7 linked regions of the Homo sapiens genome follow. The protein of the gene in region 4 purifies or fractionates together with the protein of the main gene of each other region. This does not show direct contact. Each region holds a gene or a part of one and is shown on either strand. Other genes may lie near its edges. The genes, in order: KRABD3, TMTC3, UQCC1, P3H1, DHRS7B, UQCC2 and MAT2B.

Region 1 (3,500 bases), on a different chromosome or scaffold from region 4:
ACCATGCCTGGCTAATTTTTGTATTTTATTAGAGATGGGGTTTCACCATGTTGGCCAGGCTGGTCTTGAACTCCTGACCTCAGGTGATCCACCCACCTGGGCCTCCCAAAGTGCTGGGATTACAGGCGTGAACCATCACACCCAGCCTGGGACAGTTTTTAGAATCACTGACTTGGGTGGGTGCAGGGGCTCACGCCTGTAATCCTAGCACTTTGGGAGACCAATGTGGGAGAACCACTTGAGCCCAGGAGTTCAAGACTGGCCTGGGCAACATAGTAAGGTCCTGTCTTTTTTAATTAATTAATTAAAATAACTGCCCTGAGCAGATGAAACAAGCGGTGAATTGTCTTTGCTTTATTAGGGGCGTGTTCATTTTCTTTAATAATTTGTTCTCACAAATAAACAGTTTAACATTCATTTCTCAACAGGAAGGACCCTTCCCATAATTTACCTTCTGTTTGCTTAATTTGCACAGTTAATTTTTGCCATAATTTTAAATTCAAGCCTATTGATGCTGGTCATTTTCTAGTGTCTGATGGCCACTTTAAAGTCCACTGAAGGACTTTTTTTTTTTTTTTTTTTTTTTGAGATGGAGTCTCGCCATATTGCCCAGACTGGAGTGCAATGGCGTGATCTCGGCTCACTGCAACCTCTGCCTTCCGAGGTCAAGCAATTCTCCTGCCTCAGCCTCCTGAGTAGCTGAGATTACAGGCGCCCACCACCACACCTAATTTTTGCATTTTTAGTAGAGACAAGGTTTCACCATATTGGCCAGCCTGGTCTCGAACTCCTGATCTCAGGTGATCTGTCTGCCTTGGCCCCCCGAAGTGCTGGGATTACAGGCGTGAGCCACCACACCCAGCCGAAGGATTATTTTGTAAAGAAACATAGACAAAAATGCTCGTGTTATTTTAAAAAGCCACAGGGTAGGAGGAGATGAGTACAGAGAATAGGAGATAGGAGTACAGGGTGTAAAGGAGCCTGGTGACCCAAAGCTTCCAAGGGCAACCCCAGGTTTCTTCTGAGCACTTCTCTAAACCCAGCACACAAACTAGGTGGACAGCAAGAATGTCTTCTCTCACAGCCCTGCAGACCCGAAGCCCTACGTCACAGTGTGGGCAGGCCACACTCCCTCTGAAGGCTCTGGGCCAGGATCCTTCTTGCCTCTTGTGGCTTCTGGTGGCCCTGGGCATTCCTTGGCTTGTGGCTGCATGACTGTAGTCTCTGCCTGTCTTCACACAGCTTTCTTCTTTTGTGTCTGTCTCTGTGTCTCTTCTGATAAGGAATGAGTCATACTGGACTAAGGGTCCCCCCTACTTAGGAGTATGACCTCATCTTAAGTAATTCCATCTGCAGGGACTCTGTTTCTAAATAAGGTCCTACTTACAGGCGTGAGGGTTAGGACTTCAGCGTGTCTCTGCAGAGACACAGCTCACCCCCAGCACTGTCTCTTGAGGGGATTCCTGCATGTCAGACCCTGGCTATTATCCTGGAGTGTGCGCCTGGAGGCCTAGGTGGGGTTACCAAGTGCAGGGACAGCTAGGCTGTCCCCTCTGGGATGGAACAACCAACCCCCCCGGAGACTGTGCCTGCAGGTGTCCATCACCTTCAAGGACTTGGCCGTGCGGTTCTCGGAGGAGGAGTGGCGGCTCCTGGAGGAGGGGCAGAGGGAGTTCTACCGAGACGTGATGCGGGAGAACTACGAGACGCTGGTCTCTGTGGGTAAGGACGGGAGGGAGCAGCACGTGTGGCAGGAGCCTGGTGGGCGGTGGAAGGGAGGCCGGAGTCCCTGGACCCGGCAGCCTTAGTCTTTCCACCTGAGAAATGAACACGGGGATCGTTCACGCTGCTGCTATTCTATGTCCCGGGACCGGGTTCTAGGTACAATTCGGTGGGGGTATGCGGCGGCCTCTGAGGTTCCGACCACTCTGCGGTTCTTTGAGTTTAAGTGGTCACATGAATGTGCACAGACCTGCAGGGGCCTGGGCTGCTATGCAACTGTGTGCGAAGCGGAGACCACTCCATTCCCAGGGCCACAGTTCCCTCTTCTTTCCCAGGGACAGCTGAGCTGCTCCCCCTCTCTGCTTTCCTGTCACCCTCAGAGCCTGGAAGAGCTGTTGGGGGAGGGAGCCACGCTGATGAGGGGCAGGAGCCTGCTGGTTGTGGAGATCCCCAGGGTAAGTTATCTGTCAGACTTTGGGTGTCTCCTCCCACTCATCGGTCCTCAGCCCCAGGCAATGCGTGACCTCAGCCTACTCAGTCCAGCCTCTCACCTCCCTGCCTCCCCTACTGCAACCTCCCAAGCTTTCACCCCTCATCCCTCTGGGCTGGAAGCCTGTTATGCAGAGAAGCACTCAGAGAAAGCCTGGGGTCACCCTGGAGAGTACCTCCTGCCTCAGGCCCCCCACCCACCACCACCCTGAAGCCTTATCACAGCCACCCCTGCAGAACCTGCTCCAGCTCCCAAAAGTCCTGCCACGAGGCTTACATCCCAAGACCTCAGATGGTGGATGTGCTCCACCGGCCCAGACTGGGCAAGGCCAGGCATTTAGGGGGTGCCAGGAAAGGCAGAGGGCCCAGATGGTGGAAGAAGTGTAGCGGCAGCCCGCCTGGGCATTCCCCTGGGAGGCATGGAGATTAATGAGTAACGTAGAACAGAGGAGCCCTGTTACCCAGGCCCCGCCCCCATGCCCTGGCTGTCCCTTGGCCAGAGCGCCTGGCCTGAGCCCAGGTCCTCTATATCTCATGGGACATGGTGTCTCCTCTGGCTGCTCCTCATGTGGCTGGGAGGATTACGTGAGATGCTGGGTGTGAAAACACGCACGTAGGTGTGAGTGCTGAGCAGCCGCAGGGGTGCGGGGGGGTCACTGTGGCCTCTCTGCAGGGGGACAGCCCCGGCACAGCCTGCACCTCACAGCCCTGGTGCAGCTGGTGAAGGAGATCCCAGAGTTCTTGTTTGGAGAAGTCAAGGGCGCTATGGACAGCCCCGAGAGCGAGAGCCGGGGAGCCAGCCTGGATGGAGAGAGAGCGAGCCCCGAGGGTAAGTCAGACAGTGGGGCAGTGCACGCAGCCTCCTCTGCACTCCGCATGATGAAGCACAAGTCCACGGCACTGCACTGCATGTGGGCTTGCAGGCACAGGCCGGGAGGCAGAGTCACCTGCTGTTCCTCGTGGCTAGGCCGTGTGCCGCCCTCTGAGCACATGCCCATAGCTGGCGAGAGGGCAGCTCTGACTTTCGCATGGTGGTTTCTGTGTGGCTTTGTCACCCTCCACCCACCATGGCCCCATTCAGAGCCCAGTGATGACAACACATAGGTGGCTGACATCCTGGTCATTGTTAGTACATGGCAAGGAAAGGACCCAGAATGTGACAGTGTGACAATGTTAGGGGCATCTTACCAGTTGTTGATTCTCCCTCTTTCCCGACAGCAGCTGCGGCAAGAGAGCCCTGCCCTCTCCGAGGCCTGCTCAGCTGCCTTCCAGACGGCCCTACCAGCCAG
Region 2 (3,500 bases), on a different chromosome or scaffold from region 4:
TGCATACCTGTAGTCCTAGGTGTTTGGGAGGCTGAGGCAGGAGGATTGCTTGAGCCCAAGAGTTCAAGAATGCAGTAGACTATGATCATGCCACTATACTCTATCCTGGATGACAGACAAGACCCTGTCAGAAAAAAAAAAAAAGGAAGAAGAAAAAAAGAAAGAAAGACTCTGGAGGTGACTGAGTGGTTTGCCGTATGTAGGAAATGAGAAGTAAAGCAGATTTGTCTCGAACTCTTTGCTCTTTCTACTAATATCCTAACATTTAAGGACAGTTTATGCTACTGGAAGAAGGAAATTACAAGAGAGTGATAGTTAACTAGGTTGGCATACATTATTAGAGAGCATATTAGGACCTGTGAATAAGTTAATCATTAGAGACATTTCTTATCCCAGAACCTATAGATTTTTCCTGAGAGATTTTTTTTGTTTTGTATAGTTTATGCATCAGTCTACAATACACTTTTGAGTGAATTTAACACTTAATTCCCTCAAGTGAAATTGCCTTGGGGCGGCCATGAATTAATAGGTATAATTTTTTTTTCAATGAACTACATACATATTCAGGAACTTTTCTTTATCTGTTTCACATTTTTTGCTGATTATTTTTGTCAAGCATCTCTGGGAAATGGAAAGTGAATTCTATGCACTCTTAGTTATTCTTACCTTTTTGATTTAAAAAAACTGAAGTGTCAGACCTATAAATTGGTATGATGGTGACCAGTTTGATGGTAGTGATTTTCCTCAGATTCAGTGTTGCCTTATTACAAATCATTAATGTGTGAACATTTGTGGAGAGTATTCTTTTCAATGTATACACCTCTATATTTCACAAATTAAGTCAAATAGAAAAAAAGGACATTCTTTCACCTTAGCCCATTAGAAGAGTCTCAAACTTGTGAAGCTAAAGGTTTAACTTGTTTATTCAATTAAGTACTGTAAAACAAATCGGGGTAACAAAATATGGAAGCAGATGTCCATAGAAACAGATTTCCTAATAACGACCAAACTTATTTCCTTCACAAGCTATTTATGTGCTAGTTTTTTATGGGTGTATAATGTGGAAACCACATGTCATCCCATTTTCAAAATGGTAAGAAATCTAAACATTTTTATGATGTTTCATTTCAATGTTCAGTGTTATATTAATAATTTTAGAAATTCTTGTAGAATGAAAGACTGTTGATTTAAAGGGGGGCAGTTTTATTTTTATGCATACACTAAGCTTCTAGTTAAATACATTTAACCTTTCAGGATGTTATGTGAAGTAATGCTAAGGTACAGTAGTCTGCTATCTTGTCTGAACGACACCTGATTTCATTCCCTCAGTTTCCAATATCATGTGGTTTCTTAAAGTAGTAAAGTTGTAAAAACTGACATGTTTAGCTTTTTTTTAATCAGCATTTGTGGTTTTGTTTTGTTGAAAAACCTATTAGCATATTTCATTATCATCTTATTTTTACCACACGCACATAAGTTAGATGTGTAAAATTTTTATTTATTTAATTTGTATTCCTCCTAACTGAAGTTTTATGCCTTTTGACCAACCTCTCCCCAACCTTCTCCCTCCAACCCTGGTGACCACCATGTACTGTACTTCTGTGAGTTCAACTTTTACAAATTCTACATACAAGTGAGATCATGCGTTGTTTGTCTTTCTGTGGCTGGCTTATTTCTCTTAACATGGTGTCCTCCGGGTTTATCCATGTCAGAAATGACAGGATTTCCTTCTGTTTTAAGGCTAAATAGTATTCTAAAGTGTATATGTACCACATTTTTTTCATCCAGTAATCTGTTGATGGATACTTAGGTTGTTCCCATATCTTGGCTATTGTAAATTGAATAATGCTGCAATGAACAGGGGAGGTCAGATCTCTCTTCAACATACTGACTTCATTTCCTTTGGATCTATACCCAGTAGTGAGGATGCTGGGTCACATGGTAGTTCTATTTTTAATTTTTTGAGAAGCCTTCCTACTGTTTGCTTAATGGCAATGCTAATTTACATCCCACCAACAGTGTGCAAGTGTTTCCTTTACGTTCTTGCCAACATTTGTTATCTTTTGACTTTTTGATAATAGCCATTCTTACAGGTGTGCGATGACATCTCATTGTGGTTTTAATTTTCACTTCCTTAATGATAGTGATGTTGAACATTTATATACTTGATGGCCATTGGCATGTTGTCTTCTGAGGAATATCTATTTAGCTACTTTGCCCATTTTTTAAATTGGGTTGTTTTCTTATGATTGTTTGAGTGTGTTATTTTAGATAGAATTTCAAAAAGTACTTCCACTATTTAACTGGATGAACCTTTATTGTTTAATTTTTGCTTAAAGATGTGAATATTTACATTTATTAAAGTTTTTATATTTTACTATGCAAGCATATTCTTTACAGAAAACCAGTGAGATATAGCTAATTATGCTTCTCAAATTTAAAATGCTGTAATGGTTTAGATTTTAATTTCAAGGAGTAATCACTCCCAAACACACCTAGAAATCTTGTTTTCAAAGTTCATAGATATCCTCTAATTTTAACTTTTAGAATTCAAGATTTCCATTTCACCTTGCTTACGTACATCCTGATGTTTGTTAATGTCTAAGTTGCCTTCTTTATGTTTAAATTAATATTCTTCACAGTATTATTAAAAATAGTTTAGCAGTACACTATCCAGGTTAAATGATAAAATATTTGGATTCAAGTATCAGATGCCCATATATTTCTTAATTTATTATAAATTATTTTAAATTTATTATAAATTATTAAATCTTCTTTTTTTTTTTGTAGGCGCTTTGTTTAATGGCATTACCATTTATTCCTGCATCGAACCTTTTTTTTCCAGTTGGATTTGTTGTTGCCGAGCGAGTATTATATGTTCCCAGCATGGGGTTCTGTATTTTGGTAGCCCATGGATGGCAGAAAATATCAACAAAAAGGTGAATTTAAATGTCAGTTCATGTAATGCTTACTATGGAATTAAGTGTGACACATTTTAAAATTTAAATATTTAGTTCAGTTTTCTAAGTCATGCTTTTGTATCTTTTGGTTTTTCATCTCCATAGTCTCCTCATTTGTCTTGTAAGTCAAGTTAGGAAAGCTCCATGGCACCTACTTATTCTGTGTTCTTCCCTATATTTATGTAATTTGATTTTACAGCCTGAGACAGAACAAACTTTGAGTCAGATCCAAATGAAAACAAGGATGTTACTGAGAATAAAGTCTCAAATGACCATTGCCACTTCCATATTCAGTGAACTAAGATAATAGTCATCCTACTTAAGTGAGTCATATTGAGTTAATATATATAAAATGCATATAGTAAGCAATCTGTAATTTCTTGCTATCATCACTATCTTCATTATAATCTTTGTATCCTAGTTGCCTCAAACTAACAGTTAAGGAACAGCATAGTCACACTGTATATATGCTTAGGAACTATAATTGTTATAGGTATTATCTCATTGTATACTTATGCTGTGGCACTAAAATTATCAAAT
Region 3 (3,500 bases), on a different chromosome or scaffold from region 4:
TTATAAGATTGTTGTGAGATAACATAAGTAAAACACCAAGCATGTAGGTAGGTACTAGACATACAGGAGATCTTCAGTAAGTTGCAATTGCTATTTTTGTTGCTATTTATGTTCCTGTTGCTTGGGAAAGTTTTCTCCTCACTGTATGAAATGAAACTTAAAAAAAAAAAAAAAAGTTGTCCTAAAATTACCTTTACCAAATTGCAACCTCTCCCTTTGTCTTAGTTTCCTCATCTGTGAAGTGAAAAGGTTGGACCAGAATATCTCTGAGATTTCTTCCAGCTCAAGTGTTGTTATTCTGAGTTACTCTTTAGTTCTTCAGTTGCCTTTTCTCCAAGCTAAACAGCCTAAATTCCTTTTGACCTTTCCACTAGGACCTTTTATTCATCCCTTTGATCATTCCTGTGGTTCTTTTTTTGGACGTTCTCCAAAGTTGTCCTCTTTGAAAAAAAAAAAAAATCCACCTAGTTTTTATTGAGTAATGACTTCATGCCCAGAATGGTGTTGAGTATTGGGACAGAAAATGACAGACATATAAGATGGGCTGTGCCCTGGAGCTTATAGTTGCTAAAAGGAGCAGACACACACGCCCATGGTATTCAAGAATCGCTTGAGTTTGTCCCAGCACCCCCTTTCTACTTCTCTGCCTCTGTCATTCTTGTTTTTTTATTTTTTATTTTTATTTTTTGAGACAGAGCCTTGCTCTGTCACCCAGGCTGGAGTGCAGTGGCATGATCTTGGCTCACTGTAACCTCCGCCTTCTGGGTTCAAACGATTCTCCTGCCTCAGCCTCCTGAGTAGCTGGGATTACAGGCACACACCACCATGCCTGGCTAATTTTTGTTTTTTTTTGGAGGGGGGTAGAGATGGTGGTTTGCCATGTTGCCCAGGCTGGTCTCTAACTCCTGGACTCAGGCAACCCTCCCGCCTCGGCCTCCCAAAGTGTTGGGATTACAGGCGTCAGCCACCACGCCCAGCCTATTGATATTTTCTAATCTAAGCAAAGGAAAAATTGAGGTCTTTAAGGGTCGAGTGAATTTTTTGCGGGAAGTGCAAGGACAAGAGTGGGTAGTACAAAAAAGTAAATGTGTGTGTTTATAAGTGTGTAGGTGTGGAGAAACTAGATGTCCTTGATACTAGATACATAGGTACTTTAGTAGTTCAATATAGTGTGAAATGTTAGCTAATGGTAGGATAGAAATACAGTAGATGGTAGGACAGCCACAGAAGGAATCTACTGGTTACTCCTAGAGCTGTGAGGAAAAAGAAGGATCTAATAGAACCTAATAGAAGAGGACCCAGCCCAAAGCACAGCTTGTGGAAACTGCTGTTGGCTGTGTTCTTTGAACCAGTTTAAGTGCTTTGTGTTTTAGGTGGACCATTGCATTGATGTATGTGATGTAATGGGGAGGTGTTCTGTGTTTAGTCTGTGTTTTACAAAGCCTGCTTGATACTTATGAATTAAAGCCTAAGTGTCCTTGGGACTGACCAGAAGAATCCTGACTAATTTTTTAATATCCTCGTTTGGAAAGAAAAGTAAATAGTAACATTCCACAATTAGAAATTCTATTTTTTCTTCGTTAGGGTTAAAGAAAAAAAATCATTTTCATTCCATGTGTTCCATTTCTTCTTGGAATAAACCAGAATTGAAGAGTCAGCCCTCTTCCTGCTCCCTCTCACCCTTTTTTATTGTAAAGGTAATATAGCATTAGTGAGAGTTTGGAAACTAGATTTTTTTTTTTTTGCCAGAATTATTTTGGCTATAGATTCTTAAATTTATCCATAATTCTAACTTAACAAAATAACTCTTTGGTTTCTTGTGTGTTCTTTCTAAACTTGCCCATATGCAGTCTACGCAGTCATGTTTTACCTATAATTTTATACATATTATAAGCATTTAACATTTTTCATGTTGTTAACAATAATAATAATCTCTGAGTAAACCGTGCAGTCTGAGTGATGATGATGTGTCAGTGTAGGTTTGTTCTTTGTATCAAATGCACCACTCTGGTATGGGATGTTGATGGCGGGGGAGGCTGTGCATGTGGGGGAAGGGGTATGTGGGAACTCTGCCCTTTCCAGGAAGTTTTGCTATGAGCCTAAAACTGCTGTTAAAAAAAAAAAAAAAAGTCTATTTAAAAAAAAAAAAATCCCAGCCAGGCACCCAGGCTCATGCCTGTAGTCCCATTTTGGGAGTTCAAGGCATTTTGGGAGTTCAAGGCAGGAAGATCACTCACTTGAGCCCAGGAGTTTGAGGCCAGCCTGGGCAACATATGGAGACACTGTCTCTACAAAAATACAAAAATCAGCAGGGTGTGATGACAGATGCCTGTAGTCCCAGCAACTCAGGAGGCTGAGGCAGGAGAATTGCTTGAGCCGGGGAGGTGGAGGTTGCAGTCAGCTGAGATTGCACCACTGCACTCCAGCCTGGGCCATAGAGCCAGACCTTGTCTCAAAAAACAAAAACAAAACAACAACAACAAAAACAAAACAAAAAACCCTCAATGGATACCTGATTTTCCACTGAGTGACTGAACTTTCATTAACCATCTCCTTAATGGACTTTCCTCCCAGTTTTCATTCTGTATAGTATCTGGCACATAATAACGGCTATTTTATTGCCAAATTGTTTTTAAATGCAATGTGAACATGAAAAAGGTGGCGATTGTGATCCAAACAATAATGCTGGTGATGATAGTGATGATGGAAACTTCTGCTATTTATTGAGTGCCTATTTTGTGAAAGGCACTTTATATATCTTACCTTCTTTCATCCTTACTGCAACTGAGGTTCAGTAAGTTTTCCATGGCCACTGAGCTTGTCGTAGGCGACAGAAGCAGGTTTTAAACCTAAAAGTGGCTGGTGTCTTTATTTTTTTCCCCATATACGGCACTGCTGCCCATATTTAAATAGATAGATACTACAGTTCTGTTTCCTAGAATTGACTTAGATGTAGTTCCAGGTTTCCAGGGCTGAATTCTTTTTTTTTTTTTTTTTTTTTTTTTTTGAGACCGATTCTTGCTGTGTTGCCCAGGCTGGAGTGCAGTGGCATGATATTGGTTCACTGCAACCTTTGCCTCCTCAGTTCAAGCTATTCTCCTGCCTCAGCCTCCTGAGTAACTGGGATTACAGGCATGTGCCACCACACCTGGCTAATTTTTTGTATTTTTAGTAGAGATGGGGTTTCACCATATTGGCCAGGCTCTCAAACTCCTGACCTCAAGTGATCCATCCACCTCGGCCTCCCAAAGTGCTGGGATTACAGGTGTGAGCCACGCCACCTGGCCTTTGAATTCACTCTCTCTCTCTCTTTTTTTTTTTTTTTACAGACAGGGTCTTGCTCTTGCTGAGTCGCCCAGGTTGAAGTGCAGTGGTGTGATGATAGCTCCCTGCAGCCTCGATCTTCTGGGCTCAAGTGATCCTCCCACCTCAGCCTCCCAAGCAGCTTAAGACTATAGGCATGCACCACCACACCCAGCCAATTAAAAAAAAATTTGTAG
Region 4 (3,500 bases):
GTGGCATGCATCACACTGGGATGCCACCCATGTATTTACATTGGTTCCCCAACTGAAGAAAAGGGACCGCATCCTGTTCTCTCTGTGTCTTCAGCATCCAGCACAGAGCTGAGGTACAGCATGCGGGGGCGGGTGCTGCAGGGGTAATGAGGCCCACCTTCGATGGCAGTGCGGCACACCAGATGAGAGTAGGAAAAGTAGAGGGGCGTATCCAGGCGGAAGTAGGACTCCATGATGCGCCGCACCTTCTCCGTCACGTTGTAGTACAGGTGGGCACTCTGCAGAGGAACTTTGCCTTCTTGCCCCAGCTGCCAAGGAGACAGATGGTCAGCTGCCCTCAACGACTGATATGGTTTGGCTCTGTGTCCCTACCCAAATCTTATCTTGTAGTTCCCATAATTCCCATGTGTTGTGGAAGGGACCTGGTGGGAGATGACTGAATAATGGGGGTGGATCTTTCCCGTGCTGTTCTCATAATACTGAATAAGTCTCACGAGATCTGGTGGCTTTAAAAAAATGGGAGTTTGCGTCCGGGAGGTGAGGGGCGCCTCTGCCCGGCCGCCCCTACTGGGAAGTGAGGAGCCCCTCAGCCCGGCCAGCCACCCCGTCCGGGAGGGAGGCCGGGGGGGGTGGTCGGCCAGCCGCCCCGTCCGGGAGGGAGGTGGGGGGGTCAGCCCCCCGCCCGGCCGGCCGCCCTGTCCGGGAGGTGAGGGGCGCCTCTGCCCGGCCGCCCCTACTGGGAAGTGAGGACCCCTCTGCCCGGCCAGCCGCCCCGTCCGGGAGGGAGGTGGGGGGGTCAGCCCCCTGCCCGGCCAGCCGCCCTATCCAGGAGGTGAGGGGCGCCTCTGCCCGGCTGCCCCTACTGGGAAGTGAGGAGCCCCTCTGCCTGGCCAGCCGCCCCGTCCGGGAGGGTGGTGGGGGGGTCAGCCCCCCGCCCGGCCAGCCGCCCCATCCGGGAGGTGAGGGGCGCTTCTGCCCGGCCGCCCCTACTGGGAAGTGAGGAGCCCCTCTGCCCAGCCACGACCCCGTCTGGGAGGTGTGCCCAGCGGCTCATTGGGGATGGGCCATGATGACGATGGCGGTTTTGTGGAATAGAAAGGCGGGAAGGGTGGGGAAAAAATTGAGAAATCGGATGGTTGCGGGGTCTGTGTGGATAGAAGTAGACATGGGAGACTTTTCATTTTGTTCTGTACTAAGAAAAATTCTTCTGCCTTGGGATCCTGTTGATCTGTGACCTTATCCCCAACCCTGTGCTCTCTGAAACATGTGCTGTGTCCACTCAGGGTTAAATGGATTAAGGGCGGTGCAAGATGTGCTTTGTTAAACAGATGCTTGAAGGCAGCATGCTCGTTAAGAGTCATCACCACTCCCTAATCTTAAGTACCCAGGGACACAAACACTGCGGAAGGCCGCAGGGTCCTCTGCCTAGGAAAACCAGAGACCTTTGTTCACTTGTTTATCTGCTGACCTTCCCTCCACTATTGTCCTGTGACCCTGCCAAATCCCCCTCTGCGAGAAACACCCAAGAATGATCAATAAAAAAAAAATAAATAAATAAATAAATAAATAAATAAAATAATAAAAAATAAAAAATAAAAAAATGGGAGTTTGCCTGCAGAAGTTCTCTCTTTGCCTGCTGCCATCCATGTAAGATGTGACTTGCTCCTCTTTGCCTTCCACCATGATTGTGAGGCTTCCCCAGCCACATGGAACTGTAAGTCCAAGTAAACCTCTTTCTTTTGTAAATTGCCCAGTCTCGGGTACGTCTTTATCAGCAGTGTGAAAACGGACTAACACAACGCCCCTCTTTAGGGGCCAGAGACAATGAGTACCAGGCCCATCCCACGTCCCCACACCCCCACTGAAGCTGCAGCCTCTGCTGCCCACGCCCAATACCCCTACTATATTCCTCTTCCTCCTGTCCTTCTTATCTCTCTTTATGAGCACACTGTGCATCCTGCACAGAAGCACAGCCCTCTAGAATCAGCCTTTCTAAAGAAAGCATTCTCATAGCTTTGGCGAACAGTCTTATCCTGCTCACTTTGTTTTGATTACACTCGGTCTAACAGGATTCAAAAGTGAACCTCACGCAACATAACTCATCCTCGCTTCCTGGCAACAAGAATGTTGGCAGGTGGACCCTCTTCACCTTTCCTGCCACCAGCCCCAACTCTTCCTCAAAGCCTGAGCTTCCCCCTTCCCCACCCCTTTCTCCACACTCTAGAATGCCCAGTGTTGATCTTACCTTGAGGGCTTTGAAGACAGTGACACCATAGAACTTTTCATTGGGAGTATGTGGGGAGGTCTGACCCCGGTAGCCATCTCCTGAGGTTGCTGCCACCTACAAGGCCCAAAACACAAGGTGATGTTAGCCAGGGCAGCTGAGGGCTTGAGAAGAGGTGGTCAACTGTGGCCAGGAAGAGGAAGGCGAAGGCTACCACCCAAGGGGCACTTGGTGGGGGGATGCTGGACCCTTGGGGGAAGGTGCAGTCACTGGGCTTCCCTTACATTGGTCAGTCTCTGCAGCTCCTGACACTCGTGGTCAGAGATTACGCCGTCCATCACCACCCGCTGGGAACCATTCAGGAGTTTGGAGTTCATGGTGAGACTGATGCCTTCATACAGCAGGGGGCCACCTGCAAAGCAATGACAAAACTCTAGCTAAATCTAGCAGCAGCTAGACCAAAGACTCTCCATTGGATATTGCCTCCTCGTCACAAATAGAAATTCCAGCTGTTTCCTTTTCACCAGCAAAATCTCCCGCTAGGTCATTTTCAAAGGTAGAATAGTCCAGAGGACAGAACATAGAGCTGAAAGATGAGATTCCCAGTCCCAGCTCCATGACCAAATAGCTGCTGGCTTTTGGGCCATGACACACTCTTGAGGAAACATCAGAAACACAATCCTAAAACATGAGCTCGGGAACGAGGAAGAACTGACTTTGACTCCTAGATCCTCCATTGATTAGCTGTGTGACCTTGGCAAGTTACTTAACCTCCCTGAGGTTAATTTTAATTAATTAAAATGTTCTCATCTGTCAAACAGCATCTACCTTATATGTTTGATGCCAGTATAATGTTAAGAACAAGGAAGGCAAGTTAAAAGCTTAGTACAATATTTGGCATATGGTAAGTCCTCAAAAGTTTGGCTACCATGGTATCATCATCATTATTCATTTAAAATAAGGATCTTGCAATCTGCATGACTCACCTCTCAGTTATAAGAATCAAGAGAAATAACAAAGTGAAAGTGGTCTGAAAACAAAGGAATGCTGGACAAATTCTTTTCATACGCTAATCTTGTTTAATTAACCACTGTTAATTTAAGCAACTATAGGGCAAAGGTCAACATTTCTCTCTTACAGTTCTCATGGTGTTTCTCTGTGCTAGGGACATACTAATACTAGAGACTCAGTTCAACTCCACTTGATAACTGAGGCCTCAGTGTGTACCAGGAACTGTGCCAGATAGGGTGAGAGATGAATCCTAGAAGACAGTACC
Region 5 (2,979 bases), on a different chromosome or scaffold from region 4:
TTCTTTGGTCATTTTCATTTGGAAGAGAACTTTTAAAGTGAAAAAAACTTGACAGAGGTGTTGGTTCTAGATATGGACTATTGAATAATCTTCTTTTACCCCACCATGGCCTACCCTTAGTGTGAACGTCACCATTGCAGCATTCAGAACAGGACCTCTGTGGGCAGGACTCAAGGGCTAAAAGGAAGTTGCCAAGCTGAAATGCCAACAGACTTCCAACTAACCCATTCGCAGATCCCGAGTCCAAGGAGTATTATCGGCATCGGGATTGAGTGAATTGACCTCATGGCAAGTGTAGGGTGTTTGATGGTCTGTCTCTGTCCCATAGGCTTGAGAAATGACTGATTCAGGGCCAGTCTTCAGGATGAGGCCGAGTGCAGCAGTCTCAGCACCTTCATCTTGTCTCATTTGGAGACAGTGCAGAGCTGACCTGCAGTCACCACTCGCGGGCAGAGCAGCTGGCCCCAGCATGCAGGCTCAGGCCAAGCAGAGACCAGTGTGCCCATGATCACTGGAGCCCTTGGAGCTGGTGCTGCCTCCCCATGCTTGGAACAGGGCCTGCTCACCCCTCCAGTGCTGTCCTGCCATGTCCTCCTCCCTGAAGTGAGCTCTTGGGGTTTGTGCTGTGATGTCTGCCAGGGGCCTCATGGTCCTGCGCCCGGCCCAGCCAGGCCTGAACCAAGACTGCCCATGTCCTGGCAGCAGCTGCTCTCTCACACAGCAAGTCTTGTTTTCCCCACAGTAGACTCTATACAGAGGCATGGGGCTTCATACAGCTTTACACCTGTTTATACCTAGAAGATACCACTTAAAAAATTATCTCTGCGGCATTTAAAAATAAGCTGTAATCCAAAACTTCCTACTTTTCTGCATTAACAAAAACACAGAACAGACATTGGTGAGGGAGCTCAGGCAATCTGGACAACTTAAGAGTGGTTTCATATGGCTAGGCACTGTGGTCAACACCTGAAATCTCAGCACTTTGGGAGGTCAAGTCAGGAGGATCACTTCAGCCTAGGAGTTTGAGACCAGTTTGGGCAATAGTGCAAGACCTAACCTCCACAAAAAATACGAAAATTAGCCAACCATGGTGGCACCACCTGTAGTCTAGCTACTCAGGAGGCTGAGGCAGGAGGATTGCTTGAGCCCAGGAGGTCGAGGCTGCAGTAAGCCATGATTGTGCCACTGCACTCCAGCCTGGGCAACAGAGCGAAACCCTGTCTTTAAAAAAAAAAAAAAAGTGGTTTCACATGGTCTGTGCTAGTGGCCGCTCCTGTGTGCCTGCCAGCTGGTCCTACTTTGCGGGCAAAATTGTCAAATTACTAGGGTAGAAGGAACATCAGTTGCCGTTAATCTAACACTGCCTCCTAATCTCTCCCAGCTGTTCCTTCTAACACCTAAAACAAACTAAGGACTTCTTCCTGTTTCTCATCCAATTAATACTTGACATCGAGAACAGGGACATCTGTCTGCTCCTGACTCAGTGAGCTTGTGCATATGGGGGTCAATAGTCCCCACCCACCTCTGTCTGGCCATCCTGAAGCCAAGCTACCCAAGATAAATGAGGTGGCACAACATCCCTTAGTCTTTGGTTGTTCTAATAGGCACACGTTTCCCAGGTCAGGAAGCTGCTTTTCAGGTGCGGTGTGAGGGGGTCACTCTGAAGCCCCCACCCCGGGCTGGCCCTGTGCCTTTGCTGTGGAGCACCAGGCAGACAGACTCACTTTGGTTCCAAGCCCTAACTGGGATCCTCAGTCTACCTTGTTTCCACATCCCACCCACCTCTCGCTTCCCCCACTGACCCACATCCAGCTGCAAAATGGTTCCCTCTTTCCTTGGAGCATGGAATCATCAGGGATGGTGGCACACCACTGGCTTCCTGGCCCTGGGAAGAGCTTCATGGTGGGAAAGGCAGCAGGCTGACCTGACGACTCACATCAGCTCCACTCCTCAAGAGGGACCTCTGCTTCCAAGTTCATGTGTTTCTTTTGTTTTATTTATTTTAGTTATGGACACCACCACAGCCCAGGGCCGAAGCCCTGTGGAGGTGGCCCAGGATGTTCTTGCTGCTGTGGGGAAGAAGAAGAAAGATGTGATCCTGGCTGACTTACTGCCTTCCTTGGCTGTTTATCTTCGAACTCTGGCTCCTGGGCTCTTCTTCAGCCTCATGGCCTCCAGGGCCAGAAAAGAGCGGAAATCCAAGAACTCCTAGTACTCTGACCAGCCAGGGCCAGGGCAGAGAAGCAGCACTCTTAGGCTTGCTTACTCTACAAGGGACAGTTGCATTTGTTGAGACTTTAATGGAGATTTGTCTCACAAGTGGGAAAGACTGAAGAAACACATCTCGTGCAGATCTGCTGGCAGAGGACAATCAAAAACGACAACAAGCTTCTTCCCAGGGTGAGGGGAAACACTTAAGGAATAAATATGGAGCTGGGGTTTAACACTAAAAACTAGAAATAAACATCTCAAACAGTAAGAGTTGTAGTCTTCCAGGACTAGAACCTTGTGTCCTTTGAATTCTCGCCCTGCCAGCTCCTAGAAATAGTTTCAATCTTGGAATCAGATGTTATGTCACCTGACCCAGTTGTTTCTGTATTTGACTTAAACCTCATTGTTGTGGCAGAAAGACCACCTCCAGTACTGAGGGGAGAAAGTTGTAGTTTCAAGAAGTCAGCAGTCACGCCCATTTCCAGGTCCCTATGATATCTCATCCAACTTAAAACGTGGGCCAGTATGTAATGGCTTATTTGGTGTATCCCAAGGGATGCCTGCTTTAGCACCTCATAGGAATTCCTGTTTCTCTCTTAACTCTCACCACATCCCTGTAGGATGCCAGGCACCACTCCAAGCAGAAGGTGAACTTACTAAAGAGAGAGCAGCCAAAAGGGAGAGGAGGACCCTGCGTGGCCCCGTGCATCCTCTAGAAGTGAAACCATTAAATTGGCCAGCTGGGCAGACTCTACAGCAGCCCCTGGT
Region 6 (2,719 bases), on a different chromosome or scaffold from region 4:
GGTCAGAAAAGATACTCTTTTTTTCTCCAGTAGTTTTGTTAACGTGAAAATTTAGGCTGGTAAAGCAAAACAATATTATAAGAATATCTAAAATTTAACATGCACGTAAAATTAGATTTCATGGAACATTAGCCCTAGAGACTTTAGACAAATGGTTCCGTACTGGGGGGATGGTTTTGCCCCCCAGGGGACATGTGGCAATGTCTGGAGACATTTTTAGTTGTCACAACTGGTGGTGCGGGCAGCGGTGCTACTGGCATTAGTGGGTAGAGGCCAGGATGCTTTGAAACAGCCTTCAGTGATGCACAGGCCAGCCCACGACGAAAAATTATCTGGCCCAAAGTGTTGGTAGTGCCAAGGCCAAGAAACCCTGCTTTGGTTCCTGGGTGTAGGGACGTGTATGTTCTTAAACAAGAGCCCCTCCCGCCTGCATTGTGGTGGATGATGGCTGCCTTTTCATTGAGTGCGGGCTGTGTGCCAAGCGAGTTACCTCCATGCTTTTCTTTAATCCTTACAACTTTTGAGGTACGTGTGGTTTTTTTTTTCTTACTTTTTCACCTCTCCCCAAGTTGTCTGCAGATGTGTGTTTTTATCTTCATTTTACAGATGAGGAACCCGAAGCGTAGAGGGTTAAGTAATTTGCTTGAGGGGACCCAGAGTGGGAGATGATGGGCTCGGATTCAGGCCCAAGGCCATCCCCCTCCCAGTGCCTGCTCAACTCCACAGCATGTGCTGAGTCCACACACCAGGATTCAAATCCCTGCTCCACTTCCCAGCTGTGCAACCTGAGCAAGTTACTTCACTGCCTCCTGCCTCAGTTTCCACACCTGAAAACTGGGGACAGGAAGGGCTGTGTGGAGCAGGCCAAATTTTGCGATGAAGCATCTGGGTCTGTGGGTTGCACAGCGGACAGCGCAGGGCCATTTCTTTGCCCTCATACGGAGCAGGGCAACGAGCAGCACATCCCGCTTTGATGCCGAGGGTGAGGAGAGGGCAGGAGACCACTGACAGCGTGCTGGGCACAGAGTCTGGCACACAGTGCTCAGTCCCCGCAAGCGGTCACTTCTGTTACCTGTTTGATCTGCTCTTCAGGAGCTGGGTCTCCACCTTTTTCAGGAACACACTGTGTGAAAAGCAAGCCATGCTTGTGTCGGGAAAGCCCAGTGGGTCCAATCTATGTCATCAAGTTTTAGACTTCAGTCCCTCTCTCTTTTTGTCTTCCCCTTTTGCAGACACCTTGGAAGAGCTTAAGGAAATAGATAAAGGCATGTGGAAGAAACTGCAGGAGAAGTTTGCCCCCAAGGGTCCTGAGGAGGATCATAAGGCCTGAGCTCAGGCCTTACCTCGTGCACATACCTAGGTGTGGAGTCTTGTACATTGCCATCGTCAATAAAACTGCCCCAGTTTCCCCTTGACCTTACGGTTTGGGAATCTCCTCTAGCTTTCCCAGAAAGGAAGCCCTTGCTGCTCTAAAGAAAGTTTCAGCCTGAGAAGGGATGGTGATTGAGCTATCTGCTGTGACTGCTGCTCAGGGTAGGGAAATCTCCTGGGGAGAGGAAATGCAGGTTTCCCTCTGGGCCTGATGAGGGTAATGGGGCCTCGGCACAAGGTGCTTCCTGCATTGCCACGGGAGCCCCCGCCCCTCTGGCACGGGTCTGGTGTCTCCTGGCAAGATACTCAGGCTCCCTTTTGTTGTAGGAGCTCCTGGGAGGAAGCCAAAAATAGCAGTAAATACTGAAAAGGGCATCCTGTTGCAAACAGAAAGCAGTAGGGAGGTGTGAGGCCGAGAGAGGCAAAAAGCCTGCTTGGCCCTCATCCCCACTGACTCAGAGAAGGATGGACCTTAGGCCTCTATCCCTGACCTTGCAAAAACCCACATTGCCCAGTTGGCTTAAGGGACAGGGAAGCTATAGACAGGCCTTGGCCAAGCGGGGCCTCAGCTGCAGTTGGCTTCAGCACTGTGGGCAGGTTCTGTAGGTGGCCACAAGTCAGAGGCCCTGCTGGCTGAGGACACACACAGGGTCACCTCATTATTCCATGGAACCTTGGCTCTTACTGATATTGAGCATCCTTCTCTCTGGAACCGTGAGGGACAGGGCTGGGCCCACAGCGGCCCTGGTGGGTACAAAGTGGAAGTGGGTTCTTAACCTCGTCTGTGTCTAGACTCCTCAGGATGTTCTGAAATGCATAAAATAAAATCGACAGGACTGCCGTAGAAACCAGTTATGCCGAAATGCAGTTCTGGGTAGGCAAATCTCAGGGGAGGACCCTTGAGACAGGATGTCACTCAGCGTATCTCCTGAGAGCCTGAGAGGCCAGGCCAGCAGGGAGGGGCTCTTGTTCCTGTCTTCTGCCAGTGTGTCCTGTTAATCCCCACAGCCCCCGGGGGAGTGCAGGAAACACATCCCTTTTTAACGGACTAGATTTCTATTAATTTATTTAAGGCAATTAACATATTAGTTCTCAGGCCAAAGGATTTGTAAAACATTACACCAAAAGGAGAAAAACAAGCGGTCATGAAACAGCCACGCAAGCGCAGCTCAGCCCTTGTTGCCTGGGCGTACAACTCTTCCCCAGGAAGCCTGGGAAGAGGCAGGTCCTGGGAGCAAGATCGTCCATCATGGAGTCACCAGGCCACCTGGAGCCATGCCGGGGGTGGCATGGACACGACAGTGAGGTCTGCACTGGCTACAGCAGATCTGAGGCACGGAGGGAGCTG
Region 7 (4,236 bases), on a different chromosome or scaffold from region 4:
TTAATCTAGCATCCAGTCAAAGACTATTCATTGCATTCAGTTGTCATGATAAGTTTTATTTTTAATGATCATATTAATGTAGGATTTATATATATAAAAAAAACTAGTCCAAATGACAGAAGATACTTAACAAATGTGGTTTTGCCTTTTTCTTTTTTTTTTTTTTTTTTTTTTTTTTGAGACAGGGTCTCAGTCGCCTGGGCTGGAGTGCAGTAGGGTGAACACAGCTCACTATAGCCTTGACCTCCTTGGCTTAAGCAATCCTCCCACCACGAACGGCTAATTTTTTTACATTTTGTAGAGACGAGGTCTCACTGTGTTGTCCACGCTGGTCTCGAACTCCTGGGCTCAAGTAGTCCTCCTGCCTTGGACTCCCAAGTGCTGGAATTACAGTCATGAGCCCCACCGCACTCAGCCTTTGACTGTTTTTAATTTTATTTTTGAGGCAGGGTCTCACTCTGTTGCCCAGGCTGGAGTACAGTGGTGCAGTCATAGCTCATTGCAACCTTGAACTTCAGGCTCAAGAGATCCTTTTGCCTTACTCAGCCTCCCAAGTAGCTGGGACTACAGGCATGTGCCACCATGCCCAGCTAATTTTCATTTTAATTTTTTGTAGAGACGGAGTTTTGCTATGATGCCCGGGCTGATCTTGAACTCCTGGCTTCAAGTGATCCTTCTGCCTTGGCCTCCCAAAGTGCTAGCATTATAGGCATGAGTCACTGTGCCTGGCCTTGAATATTTTTACATTGCGTTGTCACAAGTGAGCTGTGTCATTTTGGTATATTTTAATTAAAAGGCAAGGTTTCTACTTTGATATTATTTAAATCCACACCCTTGTATCTTACATCAAAATTTAAGAATCAGTCAGCTTTAAATTATTTGCTTTTATTCTTCTCTAGGAGCTGCTGTTTTGAGGATTCCTATTCTGTATGGGGAAGTTGAAAAGCTCGAAGAAAGTGCTGTGACTGTTATGTTTGATAAAGTGCAGTTCAGCAACAAGTCAGCAAACATGGATCACTGGCAGCAGAGGTTCCCCACACATGTCAAAGATGTGGCCACTGTGTGCCGGCAGCTAGCAGAGAAGAGAATGCTGGTAAGAAGGATTCCTGAGTCCTGTCTTAGCGAAGGTCCGCTTTGTCTTTTCCATGCTTGAACTTTCACAGCTGTACTTGGAGTGTTACTGAGTGAAAGCCAAAAGTGCTTTTTTAAAACTAGGAGACCAAACAAAAGTAGTTTACATATACACTGTATTCATGAAGAATAAAAATATTATGCTCTTCTGTTTGAATTTATTTCTTATGTACTATAGATCCCATCATTTCTTTTATTGCAAAGTGTTAGGAAACTTCAAAATAATCATCTAAGGTCTTTTAAGAAGATACTCTTTGGGGGCTGGGCGTGATGGCTCACACCTGTAATCCCAGCACATTTGAAAAAGTTGGTATTAAATATAATATCCATACAAAGAAAGATGAGACTGATTTAGTTTAGAATATTAATAGGATGACCACAGTTTTTTAATATATGAGAATTATATTTTGTAATATATAACATGACAATATTTAAGAAAGTTTAGCTCAACTTGAAAAATGGTTCTATTAAGTTTTTGTTGTAGCTTGGGATAATTAAAAATACTCATTAAATTGTACTGTTTTCATAAAAATTTGTAATGCTTTTTTATATTCCCACTAATTAAGTAAAATTGGAGCCTTTTTTTGATTTTAAAAATTCTTAAGGTTTAAATTCTAGAAATTGCTCTTTTAAGTGTTTTGCTAAGAGTATTAGTAGGAATTTGATTTTAGATATCTTGTGGAGACCTTTCCAGAAAAAGAGGGTTGCCTTTTAGTTCCTGGACCTTATTTTAAGTAAGCTTTTTGGTCAAACCTATTCTACTCAGCTCAAAAAGTTGAAACTATTGAATTTATTGTGTCATCGTTCTTAGGATCCATCAATTAAGGGAACCTTTCACTGGTCTGGCAATGAACAGATGACTAAGTATGAAATGGCATGTGCAATTGCAGATGCCTTCAACCTCCCCAGCAGTCACTTAAGACCTGTAAGTACATGGCTGTAAAAACCTTTAGATCCATTGCTATGGTATATATTATTGCTGTGTTGGGTAACTTCATTTCTCAGTACTAATCAAAGTGAACTTTGCTTGTATGCTGGCTGTTCATAGTGCTACTTTTCTCTAAATTATCATCTGTAGAGAAGATCATGAGTATTGAAGTTTGTAGAAAATGTATTATTGTCTTGATCATGACAGGCATTTGGTTTATTTTTCCAGGGATGATCAAATCAGATTTCTTACACTAAGAGCAAAAATAAGTAGCAAATATAAAACCTCAAAATGGCCAGGCACAATGGCTCATGCCTGTAATCCCAACACTTTGGGAGGCTGACGCAGGAGGATCCCTTGAGCCCAGGAATTTGAGACTAGCCTGGGCAATGGAGGGAGATCTCATCTCTGTTTAAAAATATATACATATTTAAAAAAAGGTCAGGGGGAACAAAGCCCTCAAAATATAGCCTTTCACTTACTTTTGATTTTTTTGTGTTTATCTTTCTTTAAAGATTACTGACAGCCCTGTCCTAGGAGCACAACGTCCGAGAAATGCTCAGCTTGACTGCTCCAAATTGGAGACCTTGGGCATTGGCCAACGAACACCATTTCGAATTGGAATCAAAGAATCACTTTGGCCTTTCCTCATTGACAAGAGATGGAGACAAACGGTCTTTCATTAGTTTATTTGTGTTGGGTTCTTTTTTTTTTTTAAATGAAAAGTATAGTATGTGGCACTTTTTAAAGAACAAAGGAAATAGTTTTGTATGAGTACTTTAATTGTGACTCTTAGGATCTTTCAGGTAAATGATGCTCTTGCACTAGTGAAATTGTCTAAAGAAACTAAAGGGCAGTCATGCCCTGTTTGCAGTAATTTTTCTTTTTATCATTTTGTTTGTCCTGGCTAAACTTGGAGTTTGAGTATAGTAAATTATGATCCTTAAATATTTGAGAGTCAGGATGAAGCAGATCTGCTGTAGACTTTTCAGATGAAATTGTTCATTCTCGTAACCTCCATATTTTCAGGATTTTTGAAGCTGTTGACCTTTTCATGTTGATTATTTTAAATTGTGTGAAATAGTATAAAAATCATTGGTGTTCATTATTTGCTTTGCCTGAGCTCAGATCAAAATGTTTGAAGAAAGGAACTTTATTTTTGCAAGTTACGTACAGTTTTTATGCTTGAGATATTTCAACATGTTATGTATATTGGAACTTCTACAGCTTGATGCCTCCTGCTTTTATAGCAGTTTATGGGGAGCACTTGAAAGAGCGTGTGTACATGTATTTTTTTTCTAGGCAAACATTGAATGCAAACGTGTATTTTTTTAATATAAATATATAACTGTCCTTTTCATCCCATGTTGCCGCTAAGTGATATTTCATATGTGTGGTTATACTCATAATAATGGGCCTTGTAAGTCTTTTCACCATTCATGAATAATAATAAATATGTACTGCTGGCATGTAATGCTTAGTTTTCTTGTATTTACTTCTTTTTTTAAATGTAAGGACCAAACTTCTAAACTAATTGTTCTTTTGTTGCTTTAATTTTTAAAAATTACATTCTTCTGATGTAACATGTGATACATACAAAAGAATATAGTTTAATATGTATTGAAATAAAACACAATAAAATTAACACTTGATCCAGAATGTTAACTTACCACCCCATCCTAGAATGTTACAGTTACTGTATCTATTTGTGGGAACGGATTTGTTTTTAACTAAAAATTAATAGCTATATAATCTTGTTACATTATACAGTTGACCCTTGAACGGTGTGGGTTTGGGGTATCAACCTTGCACAGTCTAAAATCCACTATAACTCTGGACTCCCCAAATACTTAATTAGTAAAAACCTGCTGTTGACCAGAAGCCTTACTGATAAACATAGTCATTTAACATATTTCTATCTTCTGTGTATTACATACTGTATTCTTAAAGTAGCCTAGAGAAAAGAAAATATTATTAAGAAAATCTCAAGGAAGGGAAAATATATTTACTATTCATTAAGTGGAAGTAGATTATCATAAAGTTTTTTTTTTTTTTTTTTAGACAAGGTCTCGCTCTGTCGCATAGGCTGGGGTACAGTGGTGCATTCTCAGCTCACTGCAACCTCCGCCTCCTGGGTTCAAGCAATTCTCCTCCCTCAGCCACTCGAGTAGCTGGGA

Evidence for each region.
Region 1: the proteins of P3H1 (region 4) and KRABD3 purify together in Homo sapiens (affinity purification with mass spectrometry; 2 studies listed by BioGRID and IntAct, with this or other methods). This does not show direct contact.
Region 2: the proteins of P3H1 (region 4) and TMTC3 purify together in Homo sapiens (co-immunoprecipitation; one large-scale study listed by IntAct). This does not show direct contact.
Region 3: the proteins of P3H1 (region 4) and UQCC1 purify together in Homo sapiens (co-immunoprecipitation; 3 studies listed by BioGRID and IntAct, with this or other methods). This does not show direct contact.
Region 5: the proteins of P3H1 (region 4) and DHRS7B purify together in Homo sapiens (co-immunoprecipitation; one large-scale study listed by IntAct). This does not show direct contact.
Region 6: the proteins of P3H1 (region 4) and UQCC2 purify together in Homo sapiens (co-immunoprecipitation; 3 studies listed by BioGRID and IntAct, with this or other methods). This does not show direct contact.
Region 7: the proteins of P3H1 (region 4) and MAT2B fractionate together in Homo sapiens (co-fractionation; one large-scale study listed by BioGRID). This does not show direct contact.

The regions. Positions count from the first base shown.
Region 1 is NC_000007.14:149,717,951-149,721,450, forward strand, and holds part of KRABD3 (protein KRBA1), read left to right. Parts: intron 1-1,518; exon of another isoform or gene 1,519-1,595; coding exon 1,596-1,722; intron 1,723-2,057; coding exon 2,058-2,177; intron 2,178-2,884; coding exon 2,885-3,040; intron 3,041-3,429; coding exon of another isoform or gene 3,430-3,432; coding exon 3,433-3,500.
Region 2 is NC_000012.12:88,169,807-88,173,306, forward strand, and holds part of TMTC3 (protein O-mannosyl-transferase TMTC3), read left to right. Parts: intron 1-2,790; coding exon 2,791-2,939; intron 2,940-3,159; exon of another isoform or gene 3,160-3,283; intron 3,284-3,500. UniProt on the Homo sapiens protein: Transfers mannosyl residues to the hydroxyl group of serine or threonine residues.
Region 3 is NC_000020.11:35,384,474-35,387,973, reverse strand, and holds part of UQCC1 (ubiquinol-cytochrome c reductase complex assembly factor 1), read left to right. Parts: intron 1-3,500. UniProt on the Homo sapiens protein: Required for the assembly of the ubiquinol-cytochrome c reductase complex (mitochondrial respiratory chain complex III or cytochrome b-c1 complex). Involved in cytochrome b translation and/or stability.
Region 4 is NC_000001.11:42,750,029-42,753,528, forward strand, and holds part of P3H1 (prolyl 3-hydroxylase 1 isoform 1 precursor), read right to left. Parts: intron 2,637-3,500; coding exon 2,509-2,636; intron 2,342-2,508; coding exon 2,246-2,341; intron 309-2,245; coding exon 158-308; intron 1-157. UniProt on the Homo sapiens protein: Basement membrane-associated chondroitin sulfate proteoglycan (CSPG). Has prolyl 3-hydroxylase activity catalyzing the post-translational formation of 3-hydroxyproline in -Xaa-Pro-Gly- sequences in collagens, especially types IV and V.
Region 5 is NC_000017.11:21,188,942-21,191,920, forward strand, and holds the end of DHRS7B (dehydrogenase/reductase SDR family member 7B), read left to right. Parts: intron 1-2,006; coding exon 2,007-2,212; 3' UTR 2,213-2,479; downstream 2,480-2,979.
Region 6 is NC_000006.12:33,696,264-33,698,982, reverse strand, and holds the end of UQCC2 (ubiquinol-cytochrome c reductase complex assembly factor 2), read left to right. Parts: intron 1-748; exon of another isoform or gene 749-855; intron 856-1,232; coding exon 1,233-1,330; 3' UTR 1,331-2,219; downstream 2,220-2,719.
Region 7 is NC_000005.10:163,515,619-163,519,854, forward strand, and holds the end of MAT2B (methionine adenosyltransferase 2 subunit beta), read left to right. Parts: intron 1-899; coding exon 900-1,093; intron 1,094-1,942; coding exon 1,943-2,056; intron 2,057-2,574; coding exon 2,575-2,745; 3' UTR 2,746-3,736; downstream 3,737-4,236.